3 separate regions of the Homo sapiens genome follow, and regions 1 and 2 are each linked to region 3. Evidence: fine-mapped expression QTL. A gene starts in region 3. Each other region holds a variant in brackets. All regions are shown on one strand. Distances are between the middles of the regions. Region 1 overlaps FBXO10 (F-box protein 10). Region 2 overlaps FBXO10 (F-box protein 10). Region 3 holds the start of FBXO10 (F-box protein 10).

Region 1 (4,239 bases), 35 kb after region 3:
AGAACCATCCAGAGTCCAATCAGTTGCAGTCAAGAGGTCGGGGATCCTTTGTTCTACATATACATCTGCTGGGAACCTTACCTCTATAATCATGTGATATAAATCACTGGTAGGGGAGAAGAAGATTTTCCAGAAAAAGCAAGTAGGTAGATGGCTGGGCAGCCAGCCCATAGGTGTTCAGAATAACCAATTAACTGCTCAGGATAACCAATGGCAGAGCCAGGACCAAAACCCACAGCATCTGACTCAGCAGTAGTCTGTCCTGGGGCTGCCCCACGTGGGGAAACAGTAATTACTTGATCTGGGAACAAGCAGAGACAGACAGATGGACAGTCACTGCCTCAGTTCTCATTCCTAATAGTGTAAAGAGATAGAGGTCTCTTCCTTGAGAGTGTAGGGGATCCAGAGCTCTAGGACCCTAACAGCCAAAGGTGGGTTCCCTCTTAGAAGTCCAGACTCTTCTAGTTGCAAGTCACAGAAGCCCAAATCAAACTAGCTTGAGCAAAAGGGGGATTTAGTAGAAGGCCATTGGGATATCCTACAAAATTGAAGGAAGAACTGTAGATTCCAAGACATCTTTAAGAATCTGGAATCAGTACTATCAGGATACACACACACATGTGCTCACCTTGTTTTCTTCCTCTTTTTAAAGGTCATCTTTCTGTTTGGCTCTTATACCAGAAGGTTTCCTCCACATGGTGGTGAACCTGGCAGTTCCGGAGTCGTATCCTTTTTTTTTTTTTTTTGAGATGGAGATTCGCTCTTGTTGCCCATGCTGGAGCGCAATGGCACGATCTGGGCTCACTGCAATCCCTGCCTCCCTGGGTTCAAGCGATTCTCCTGCCTCAGACTCCCAAGTAGCTGGGATTACAGGCATGCACCACCATGCCCGGCTAATTTTGTATTTTTCATAGAGACAGGGTTTCTCCATGTTGGTCAGGCTGGTCTTGAACTCCCAACCTCAGGTGATCCACCTGTCTCAGCCTCTCAAAGTGCTGGGATTACAGGCCTGAGCCATTGCGCCCGGCCTGGAGTCATATCTTTATAACATCTGACCATAGAGAAAAGAGAGTCTTCCTTGCTAATTCCTGGTGGAAAAATCTAGAGTAGGATTCACATTGAAAGGATGGAGTCCTCTGACTGGCTGAGCCTTGTTTATTTGCTCACCCTTGGGCTCAGGAGATGGCAGGGGGTATTTTAAGAAAGGGACTGGAGGCCGGGTGTGGTGGCTCACGCCTGTAATCCCAGCACTTTGGGAGGCCAAGCCGGGCAGATCACCTGAGGTCGGGAATTTGAGACCAGCCTGACCAACATGGAGAAACCTGGTCTCTACTAAAAATACAAAATTAGCTAGTTGTGGTAGTGCATGCCTGTAACCCCAGCTACTTGGGAGGCTGAGGCAGGAGAATTGCTTGAATCTGGGAGGTGGAGGTTATGGTGAGGCCAAGATCGCACCACTGCACTCCAGCCTGGGCAAGAAGAGTGAAACTCCATCTCAAAAAAATAAAAAAGGGGGACTGGTAAGTAGGATAGACAGAAATCTCTTTTGTTTTGTGTCTGTCTCCTAGGTGACCATGGAGGCTGGTGGCCTCCCCTTGGAGCTGTGGCGCATGATCTTAGCCTACTTGCACCTTCCCGACCTGGGCCGCTGCAGCCTGGTATGCAGGGCCTGGTATGAACTGATCCTCAGTCTCGACAGCACCCGCTGGCGGCAGCTGTGTCTGGGTTGCACCGAGTGCCGCCATCCCAATTGGCCCAACCAGCCAGATGTGGAGCCTGAGTCTTGGAGAGAAGCCTTCAAGCAGCATTACCTTGCATCCAAGACATGGACCAAGAATGCCTTGGACTTGGAGTCTTCCATCTGCTTTTCTCTATTCCGCCGGAGGAGGGAACGACGTACCCTGAGTGTTGGGCCAGGCCGTGAGTTTGACAGCCTGGGCAGTGCCTTGGCCATGGCCAGCCTGTATGACCGAATTGTGCTCTTCCCAGGTGTGTACGAAGAGCAAGGTGAAATCATCTTGAAGGTGCCTGTGGAGATTGTAGGGCAGGGGAAGTTGGGTGAAGTGGCCCTGCTGGCCAGCATTGATCAGCACTGCTCAACCACACGCCTGTGCAACCTCGTCTTCACGCCAGCCTGGTTCTCACCCATCATGTATAAGGTGGGTATCCACATCAATAGACGGCCTTTCTAGTTCTGACCCCAGAGGCTTGCCCTCTTTTCTGGGCTTTTAATCCCTTTTTTTGTTGGAATTGAAAGTTAAGAGTTATTATTATACTCATACTCCTCTGAGTGCTGAACCAGTTGAGAAACAGGCACAGTGATCAGTAGAGTTCAGAATTCTGCTTTATTCTTGGTAAAGCAGTATTTAAAAATGGCTTGGGCTTGGAACCAAAATTCTTTTGCACCTCTTCCCTTTCCAACTGGACCAACTGGAGCCACCAGTCTAGCAGCGGCGGGAAAGCCAGGTTCTGGAAGCATGCCACTTGGTGACAGGAAGCAGAGAGCCCATTAGCTGCTCATGGAGGCATGCCCAGAGTGAGAGCCACAGAGGAAAAAGGCTATACAGGACTAGTCACCTTCAGCACATGAACCCCACCCTGTGTGGGATCAAGGAAGGGCAG[G/C]CTTTTACCATGATTTGCTAGTTCTCAAGGGCAATGGTGAGAAGGTTAGAAAATATTTGTCCAACATATTCCTTCCGTGAATGCAGAGCCAGAAGATGGTTCAAAGTAAAGCAGGTATCCAGGTGTTGGTAGTTCCTGGCAGAACAGTCTATAGCTTATACATTGCCTAGAAACTTGGATTATGTAGGTAGTCAATAAAAATTATATCGCTTTCCTGCCTGCTCATAAAAAATAAAAGATTTTTGGCCAGGTGCAGTGGCTCACACCTGTAATCCCAGCACTTTGGGAGGCCGAGGCAGGTGGATCACCTGAGGTCAGGAGTTCGAGACCAACATGGTGAAACCTGTCTCTACTAAAAATACAAAATCAGCGGGGCATGGTGGCAGGTGCCTGTAATCCCAGCTACTCGGGAGGCTGAGGCAAAAGAATCGCTTGAACCCGGGAGGCGGAGGTTGCAGTGAGCTGAGATGGTGCCATCGCACTCCAGCCTGGAGGACAAGAGTGAGACTTTGTCTCAAAAAAAAAAAATCATATATATATGATTTTTAAAAGTATATTGCCAATAACAATTGTCTCTCATGTTTGTAATGATCCTTATACCACTGGTCATTTGTGACAGATGTAGTGTGTGCATGCCATATGCCTTATAGCCATTATCTCATGGGTTCCTCTCCACATGCCTCTGAGATAGGTAATGTCATCTGATTTTATAGATGAGAAAACTGAGGCTCAGCAAGATTAAGTGACATCAAGGTCTCAGACTTAGTAAGATCCAAAGTCTATTCATAATCTAGGTGACTTTCCATCTGTGACCTCATTGGACCCCCACAGCAAACATTTGTGTAGGTGAAGTAGATGTGGTATGCCTATTTTGCAAATGAGGGCTACTGAAGGTCACAGTTGGTAAGTAACTTTCTCAAGTGGGTAATTAGGGAAGTTAGATCTCAAATTCAGGCCTTCTCATCTAAATGCTTATAAAATTACATCATGCTATGTTACCTGAAAGCTTAAAAGCTTGTGTTTTAGCCCTAGAGCATTTCAGAAGAACTGATGAACTTCTCTGGTGCTGGTCTGCAGGCCCAGAAGGAGAGTTTGTTTCTAGAAAGAAATAATGTTCCAGACCCTTCACATTTTGTAATACATTTATTCTTAGAGTAATATTTTGATTTCAGCCTCTACTTCTCCCTCAGAAGTATAGTCATAGATCCTCAAGGGATGAGGCCTGGCGTTAGACTTGTTTGTAGCCTGCCCTGTGGCTTAGTGCTTAGCATATAACATATATTAGTTAGTGTTCAGTCCATGATTGTTTTTCAACTAAAGGAGACATGGGGGCCTGGGATGGCTTTGCCTGAAAAATGCAAAGGCCAAGGCGATTTCACAGCAGTTTTCAGTGACTTCTAAGGAGAACCTTAGCAGTGGCTCTGCATCTCCAGAGAGCTGGCTTTTTTATCTTTAGAGAGAAAATGGATTTAAATAGCAAGGAAAAATTAGGTTAGCCATAAGGAAGAAATTAGAAAAGTTAAGGGGGCTTAAATTCTGGGACAATCTATCAAAGGTCAATTTTAAAACTTATTCAAGGGGTAGGTACGTCTGGATTATTAAATGGAATCATGAGAT
Region 2 (4,239 bases), 42 kb after region 3:
TACAATGAGAAGAAGGTCCAGGGAAAATTGGACACGTGATAAGAAGGGGTGGAGAGTGAGGGTGTCCCAACAGCAGAAACATCCTACGCCAGAGCCTGGGTGTGAGGTTGAATTCAACCATGCGGTGGGGCTAGGTTGAAGGATGAAGCTGGGGGTGAGCAAAAGCTACCTTACCCAGACCTGGAATCCCCCTTGAGACATTTGGGCCTTATGCTAAGAACAGTCCTTCTAGCCACTGCGACAATCAACACCTTCTATGTGCTGGGACTTAGGGCACCACAGGACAATCTGCAAATCCTGTAAATGGTTGATGACAGGAAGGCCTTCTGAAGGGAAAGACAGCCCATGCAGAAGAAAGCATGGCATAGCACCTAGATTCGAGTCTCACCTCTCCACTAACTCACTATGAACATGACCTTCACTTTCGTAAAATGAAAATAAGCATCCCTATTTTTCTTCTCTCACTGGCTATTGGAAGGTCCCATGCCGGAAGTATTCAGTAAACTAAAGAACATTGTACAAAGGTCACTCATGAGTGTTGCAGGCTTCTAAAATGGTTAATAGCAATCACATTTTAATTAATTTAAATTTAATTGTGTTTTACCCAGCCCACTTCCAAAGAGGATTTCAGGTGATGTTACTTTGAAAGCATAATGCAAGACTCCTGTACACATACATAAAAGAAAATGGCCAAATAAAAAGGGAAAGGTAATAGCTTTGCTGTCGTGACTACCACGATGAAAGGATCTGGCTCAAGCCCTCAAGGAGGGCATTCTTCCTTGCATAGTTATTGAGAATATGGCTTTCTAGTTAAAGTCTGGCTCTGCCCCTTAAGTCGGCAGGGTGAAGACGCGAGGCAAAGGAGGTGTGTGTGAAGGCCCAGAAGTAAGGGGAGACACACCCTTTCACCCTTTCAAGCAAGGCCTTGATCCTTGCTCCCCCACAGAAGGCTGTCACCTGGCTCTGTCCTCTAGAACATCCCAGGAGGGTAAAGGCTGGCAGGAGGAGCCTGGTTGCTTGAGGCTCCAAGAAGAAAAGTGTCAGCCGGGTGCTGTGGCTCAAGCCTGTAATCCTAGCACTTTGGGAGGCTGAGGCGGGCAGATTGCCTGAGCTCAGGAGTTCGAGACCAGCCTGGGCAACACGGTGAAACCCCGTCTCTACTAAAATAAAATAAAAAAAAAATAGCCAGGCATGGCAGCGGGCACTTGTAGTCCCAGCTACTCGGGAGGCTGAGGCAGGAGAATTGCTTGAACCCGGGAGGTGGAGGTTGCAAGTGAAAGCCAAGATTGCGCCACTGCATTCCAGCCTGGGTGACAGAGCAAGACTCCGTCTCCAAAAAAAAAATAAAAAAAAAGAAGTGTCACCGACTGTGATTTTCTTCTTTATGTGTCATAAATTTTAGTTGGAAGTCAGATATCTCATGTAGGACAGTGGGGACTGAGCTCTGTAGTATTTAGTTTGGAAATGGGCACACCTCTTCTTTTGCCTGGCTCTTAGGAGGTCGATCTAGTTAGGAGCTGAGCCCGTTTGAATTATGGTGATGATAGGATTATCCTCAGCGTCCCGTAGGCTTCAGCTCTCTCCAGCATTACCTCGTGCTAGTTTTCTCCGCTTCAGATCTTCCTTTGTGCCTGCTGCTCAGAGGCGATCTCCGCTGCTCTCGCCCTCCCTCAGCAGTAGACTGCCATTATTTGTCACCCTACGTGATGGCAGGGTTTCTCTCTTGTCCTGGGTCATCCTTAGTCTAGGTAGGTGCTGTGTCTGTGGTCTTGAGAGCAGGACTTTTTCAGTGACCCTGGCTCTACCCCCAGCACTAGGGGACCTCTGATGATCTGGGCCTAAGTCACTTTCCTCCCAACACCCCCAGAGATAAGAGTGTTTTCCCGCTGTTTCTCTGTGCATACGGTTTGTTTTGTAAGAGAGTTAGGGGGAAAGAACACAGGAGAGGGGCTTAATGCCTCTCTCACTTTTGTCCCCAGCCTGCGTCAGGAGGGTGCTGTCTCCAGTCTC[TCA/A]TCTGCCCCCAGTTTTCTCCATGAACACCTAGTGAAGGCCACAGAGAAGTGAACAGGTGCAGCTACTCCCAGAGTTTCTGCACTCACACTAATTCACAGCTGGTCTTTAACAGTGCATTGAAAATGTTAGCTGAGTTCTTACTGGCTTGTATGACACATGCAGCCCTGCATTCAGCAGGGAAGTGCTCAGGCCTCGTCTCCTTGGAGGCGCCTGTCTTTCTTTTTTTGAGACGGAGTCTCACTCTTTCACCCAGGCCGGACTGCAGTGGCACGATCTGGGCTCACTGCACGCTCCGAAAGGCACCTGTCTTTTTGTAGCATTCAGGCTAGCCGGTTGTCCAGCAGCCTCAGCTCTGATGGGTTCCACCAGAAAGTCCATGTTTGTGTATATTCTTTCTACTTTCTCCATCCTAAGCAGAAGCTGAAACCTTACCATTTATACTCTTGTTCTACTTTAGTCTTCACAGAATTTTGTCCTAATGCAATATATTATTAGTAGTACACAATTTATAATAATATATTTTATTATTAATCTATAATTGTTTAAGACAGCATAGATAAACATTCCAGATTTTTTATATATTATCATGCTTTGGTATCCGTGGGGGCTTGGTTCCAGGATACTAAAATCCACAGATGCTCAAATCCCTTATATAAAATGTTATAGTATTTGCACCTAACCTGCACACATCCTCCCACACTTCAGTCATCTCTAGATTACTTATAATACCCAATACGATGCAAATGCTATGTAAATAGCTCTTCTACTGGGTTTTTTTGTTTGTTGGTTGTGTTTTTTTTGTTTTTTTTTTTTTGAGACGGAGTCTCCACTGTTTAGCCCAGGCTGGAGTGCAAAGATGTGATCTCAGCTCACTGCAACCTCTGCCTCCTGGGTTCAAGCGATTCTCCTGCCCCAGCCTCCCAAGTAGCTGAAACTACAGGCATGAGCCACCACGCCCAGCTAATTTGTTGTATTTTTAGTAGAGATGGGGTTTCACCATGTTGGCCAGGCTGGTCTCAAACTCCTGACCTCAGGTGATCCGCCCGCCTCAGCCTCCCAAAGTGCTGGGATTACAGGCATGAGCCAACACGTCCAGCCTATACTGTTGTTGTTTTTTTTAATTCAATTTTATTTTATTTTTGAGATAAGGTCTCACTCTGTCGCCCAGGCTGGAATACAGTGGCACAATCTCGGCTCACTGCAACCTCTGCCTCCCTGATTCAAGAGATTCTCCTGCCTTAGCCTCCTGAGTAGCTGGGACTACAGGCATCTGCCACCATGCCTGGCTAGTTTTTGTATTTTTAGTAGAAACGAGGCTTCACCGTGTTGGCCAGGCTGGTCTCAAACTCCTGACCTCAAGTGATCCGCCCACCTCGGCCTCCCAAAGTGCTGAGATTACAGACGTGAGCCACCACACCTGGCCTGTTTTTCAATTTTATTATTTATTATTTTTAATAATGTATATTCAATCCACAGTTGGTTGAATCCATGGATGCAGAACCCACAGACATGGGGGAGACAACTGTACTTATTAAACATAAAAAGAAAATGTAATTGGAAATATATCCCTTTATTAGCAGGTTGCTGGTTATGGGAACTTGTTTGAAGGAGGCTTTGTTATACCAATATCTCTAATCATCCCTTCATTTGGAGTCTCAGTAGTTTTCCACCCCAGGGTGATACACCATGAAAGATTTAGGATGTGCAAGAACAGGCCTTTGTTTTATAAAGTGGAAGGGAAGGTGGGAGAGGAGAACCTGTGTGGTACCTTACTGTCCGTGCCGTCTCAGACAGGTGGATTTTAGTGAAGGTGCATTGGAAGTGGTGGACCTGGAACTTTATTTCATTAAAAGTAGCTGCACCCTCGACCCCTGGGGAAATCTTCATGCAAACTTAGTGCATGTAAAGTTTGAAGACCACTCAGTCCCATCTTCCCCTAAGCGTCCTTTCTATCCCATCATCCAGCTATGCTGCTTGCAGGTTCTGAATATAGAGCACAGGGCCAAGCTTTGGTCCAGGTTTTAGTTAAAGGACCAGTGTGGGCCAGGTGTAGTGGTTCATGCCTGTAATGCCAGCAGTTTGGGAGGCCAAGGTGGGAGGATTGCTTGAGCCCAAGAGTTCCAGACCAGCCTGGGCAACATAGTGAGATTCCATCTCTACAAAAAATAGAAAAGTTAACAACAAAATTACTCCAGCCCACATCCATAGTAAAAATAAAAATAAACA
Region 3 (4,239 bases):
CAGCCGTGAATTGCTTTTTTAATCACTCCACTTGGATGACACACAGGCATCTCAAAATTAATTATTTTTAATTGATAGATAATTGTACATATTTATGGGGTACATGTGATATTTGACTCATGCATACAATACGTAATGATCAAATCAGGGTATTTAGAATATCCATCTCAAAAATTTATCATTTATTTGTATTGGGAGCATTTAAATCTAGCTATTTTGAAATATACAATAAATTATTGTTAACTACAGTCACCCTACTGTGCTATTGAACACTAAAATTTATTCCTTCTATCCATGTTTGTACCCATTAACCAACCTCTCTCTATCCCCTTCCCCTCCCAGCCTCTGGTAACTGTCATTCTACTTGCCAACTGCATGAGATCAACTTTTTAGCTCCCACGTATGAGTGAGAACATGTGATATTTGTCTTTCTATGCGTGGCTTATTTCACTTTACATAATGACCTCCAGTTCCATCTGTGTTGCTGCAAATGACAGGCTGAATAGTATTCTGTTGTGTATATATGCCACATTCTTTTTATCCATTCATCTGTTGATGAAGACTTAGGTTGCTTCCATATCTTGGCTATTGCGAATAGTGCTGCAATAAACATGGGGATCCAGGCATACCTTTGACATACTGATTTCCATTCCTGGATAAATATCCAGCAGTGGGACTGCTGGATCATATGGCAGTTCTAGTTTTACTTTTTTGAGAAACCTCCATGCATTTTTCTATACTGGCTGTATAATTCAGTGTATGAGAGTTCCCTTTTCTCCATGTCCTCACCAGCATTTGTTATTTTTTTGTCTTTTTGTTAATAGTCATTCTAACTGGCAGTGTCAAATTTAACAAGTTCAAATGGGAGTTCTTGATCTCCCCCCGCTTCCAAATATATTCCCCTTACAATAGTTCCCATTTCAATAAATAGCACCTCCACGGGCCCAGTTAATAGGTTAAGCTACCAATCTCTGCTTCCACCCTTAACTCCTGTCTTCACATAGTAGCTGACATACTGCTTTAAAAGGTATCAAATCCTCCACCCCTTCGATGGCTTCCTGTTACGTACAATTTTAAAATCCTTATCATGGCCTATTAAGTGCTGCGTGATCTGGCCCCTACCTACCTTTCTGACCTCACTTATATTGTTCTTCCCGTTAAAAAGCTTCAGACAAGCTAGACGTTTTCCATTTCCACAAAGAGCGATCTTTTCTCCTCCAACCCAACCCACCTGGTCCAAGAGTTTTCACAGGGCTTACCCTGCCCCTCTTCCATTTGGCTAACTCTTTATCTTACTCTGAGAGGTCTTCCTTGACTACCCTTCCTTGGTCCCTAATTTATTTAGTTTTATTTTTGAAACAAGAGTCTCGCCCTGTCACCCAGGCTGGAGTGCAGTGGCACAATCATGGCTCACTGTTAACCTCGAACTCCTGAGCTCAAGTGATCTTTCCTCCAGCCTCGGCCTGCAAAAGCGCTGGGATTACAGGCATGAACACCTGGCCCCTATTTTTAAATTACAGCTCCTTCCGTGCATTTTCTACAATTTTAAACACATATTGGTTTAAATGACACTTGATTACCGTCTACCTTCTCCACTACAGAATTAACTTCAGGAGAAGAGGAACCATATCTGCTTTGTTCACTTTTGTGCCCATAATAGTAACGGCACCAGCAGCAACAAACATACAGCATTTACTTTGTGGCAGGCATTATGCTAAGCGCCATACATACAACTAATTTAATATGTACTCCTAGTACATTGTCTGGCAGGTAGCCAATGGTCAGTTTGTTCAGTGAATGAACCCAGACCCTACATGCTCATCTACAGGGTGCCTAGCACCCCAGGAAACTGCTCCTTATACTGTTAGATAACTGGTGCTCGCAGGAATCTTATTTACACTGTATTGGCCTTAGCATGCCTCCCTGCAGTTTCCACCCACTGGTTCTATTTCTGCCCCTTCTGGGGCCACGCAACACGAGCCTGAATCGTCCTTCCGCAAGCTCGCCTTTGCAGTACCCGAAGCCCCACGCGCCCCCTCCTCGTCTGCCTTCCTCCCGCCTCCCGGTGCCCCTCCTGCAGATACAGCTTTTATGCGCGGTGGTCGGGAAGCCCAGCCCCGGCCAGCCAGCTGCTCCCGGCATCCTTCGCCGCCTTGCGCGTCACATGACGGCGGCGGCTCCGCACGATCCCCAGGCAGCTGTCCGCCCCCGGGCGGGGCTGGCCGCACGCCGCAATCCTACCGGCTGCTGCGGCTCCAGCGGGGGCGGCGGGTGGCTTCCAGGGCACCGGCGGCCGCGGCCCGGACTCCGCGGTGGGCGAGCGCCCTGTGAGGTAAGCGGCCGGTGCGCAGAGGCTGCGGGCGAACTTGGGCGGCCGGGGGAGGGGACCCGGGGCGCTTCCCCAGGCGACCGACCCAGGAGGCGCCGCTCAGTCCTGGCCGAGGCTGAGCGTCTGGTCGGGCTTCGGGCATCAGGGGTCTGGCAGGACCATGAGGCGTACCCTCAGGCCGCCCGCGGCTCCGCGGTCCCCCGGCATCCGGAGGCTCAGGCGCGCCGACGGAGAGCTATGCCTTGGTTTACCCTCCCGTAAAACTACCGGACGCGGAGCATGTATCTCCGCGGTGCCTCCAGCCCTGAGATTTTTCGAGTGTGTAAGTAAAGTCGAAGAAGAAGAAGCTGACTCTTGGGATGGGAAGAGCCTTCACCTAGGAACGCAGGGGCAAATATGGGGCTGGGCACCCACTGTGTATTTTATGCAAATCTCAAGGGGCAAATATGGGGCTGGGCACCCACTGTGTATTTTATGCAAATCTCAAGCCTCTCAGACGGTTTTTTCATCTTTAAACAAAAAGTGATAACCCCTGTCCTGCCTCGCTCTTAGGACTACAGTGAAGAACAGAGGGGAAAGTCATTTGAGGAGCCAGAACTCTGGAGTCAGTTAGCTCTGGTTCAGATCACAGTTCTGCCACTTACTGGCTTTGTGACCTTCAGCCAGATTGATTCCTCATCTGTGAAAAGGAGGTAATAAGCTCATGGGTTGCTGGGAGGATTAATTGTAAAGGGTTTAGCACACAGTGTCTGGCACAAAAGCCTCAGTAGATAATGCTGTTAATATAAGCATTATTAGTAAGCTAGAGATTGCCCCACGTGAAGGGCTTTTTCAGCAGAATAATCACATTTGTTTCTATATTTTTAGTCCTGAAAACTGCCGTTTTGGTTTGTAAGACCTTTTCTTTTTCTCATTCTGGGCCCCCTTTGCCTTCTCTTTTACAATTGGCATATGAACCTGTTGTTCCTACCATATGAGTCAGGCTGGATGGGAACATCAATTTACTTGAGCAGATTGGTATCAGATTCCCTCTGAGGGGAGAGAAAAGTGCCAGGCATGTGTAGCCACCGAAAAAAAAAACACAGTACGGTGATTGACTGTCAGAGCTGGAGGATGCCTGGGAAACCATCTAATCCAGCTGTCTCCTTTGCAAATGGAGAGACTGGACCCAGAAGGACGACAGGACTTTGATTTTGCTCAGGACCCAACAGAGTGCTGGCAGTGGGTAGTGGAGAGGATGGACCTTTTACCAGGCACTGTGCTTTCCCTCAGTTCTAATCTCATTCCGCATTTATTCAGCAGCTATATGGAACCCCTACTCTGTCTTGTACACCTACTAGGATCTGGACATAGAGCTGTGAACAAGACACACATGGTCCCTGTCCTCAAGGGGCTTTTTCCAGAGCTAGCTATGTTAGTTTGAGGTTATATAATGTTTTATATATATATCCATCTCCCTGCCCGTTCTCAGTACATTTTAAAATAACAATAAGCTGCAGCTCCCAGTGAGCTTACCTCATAACAGCTGGCCTCCAGGGATAGGAGCACACAGAGAGGCCTGAATTGTTTCCTGATCCCTCACACCAGTTCCAGAGCCCTTGCTGGAGCCTGGTGAGATTTGAGAGACTGGAGAAAAAGCTGCTTTATCAGGGCTTTTAAGAAAGGATTTCCTTCTGCCCTGGAGCACTTGGATTTCTTTGTCTTTCTGGTTTCAAGCCTATTATTGTTTTTAGATTTCTGAGAAGAGCCGCCTTCACCATAGTGCCATCATTTTGGTTGCCGTGGTTATCAGGGGAATTGTATTTTTATGATCGCACAAGTAGCTGTTAAGCAATAAATGCTCAAGCAGTCACCAGGTCACCATGAGTTTCCGTTCTCTGGTTTCTTTCAGTTGCAGTGCAGTTACACTA

Evidence for each region. PIP is the estimated chance that this variant, and not a neighbour inherited with it, causes the effect.
Region 1: its variant is the best candidate, but not a certain one, in a credible set for the expression of FBXO10 in whole blood (TOPMed, PIP 0.78).
Region 2: its variant is the best candidate, but not a certain one, in a credible set for the expression of FBXO10 in blood mononuclear cells (TOPMed, PIP 0.74).

Annotation. Positions count from the first base shown.
Region 1 is chr9:37,539,104-37,543,342 of GRCh38, reverse strand. It overlaps FBXO10 (F-box protein 10), which reads left to right. Exons shown (of 11, transcript NM_012166.3): 2 at 1,569-2,159. The coding sequence starts at 1,575. Among named protein-coding and RNA genes, the nearest start is that of FBXO10, 35 kb to the left of the region's middle. The variant G/C (reference allele first, on the strand shown) is at 2,623.
Region 2 is chr9:37,532,461-37,536,699 of GRCh38, reverse strand. All of the region lies in intron 3 of FBXO10 (F-box protein 10), which reads left to right. Among named protein-coding and RNA genes, the nearest start is that of FBXO10, 42 kb to the left of the region's middle. The variant TCA/A (reference allele first, on the strand shown) is at 2,011.
Region 3 is chr9:37,574,304-37,578,542 of GRCh38, reverse strand. It overlaps FBXO10 (F-box protein 10), which reads left to right and starts at 2,163. Exons shown (of 11, transcript NM_012166.3): 1 at 2,163-2,332. RefSeq lists a silencer at 2,130-2,509.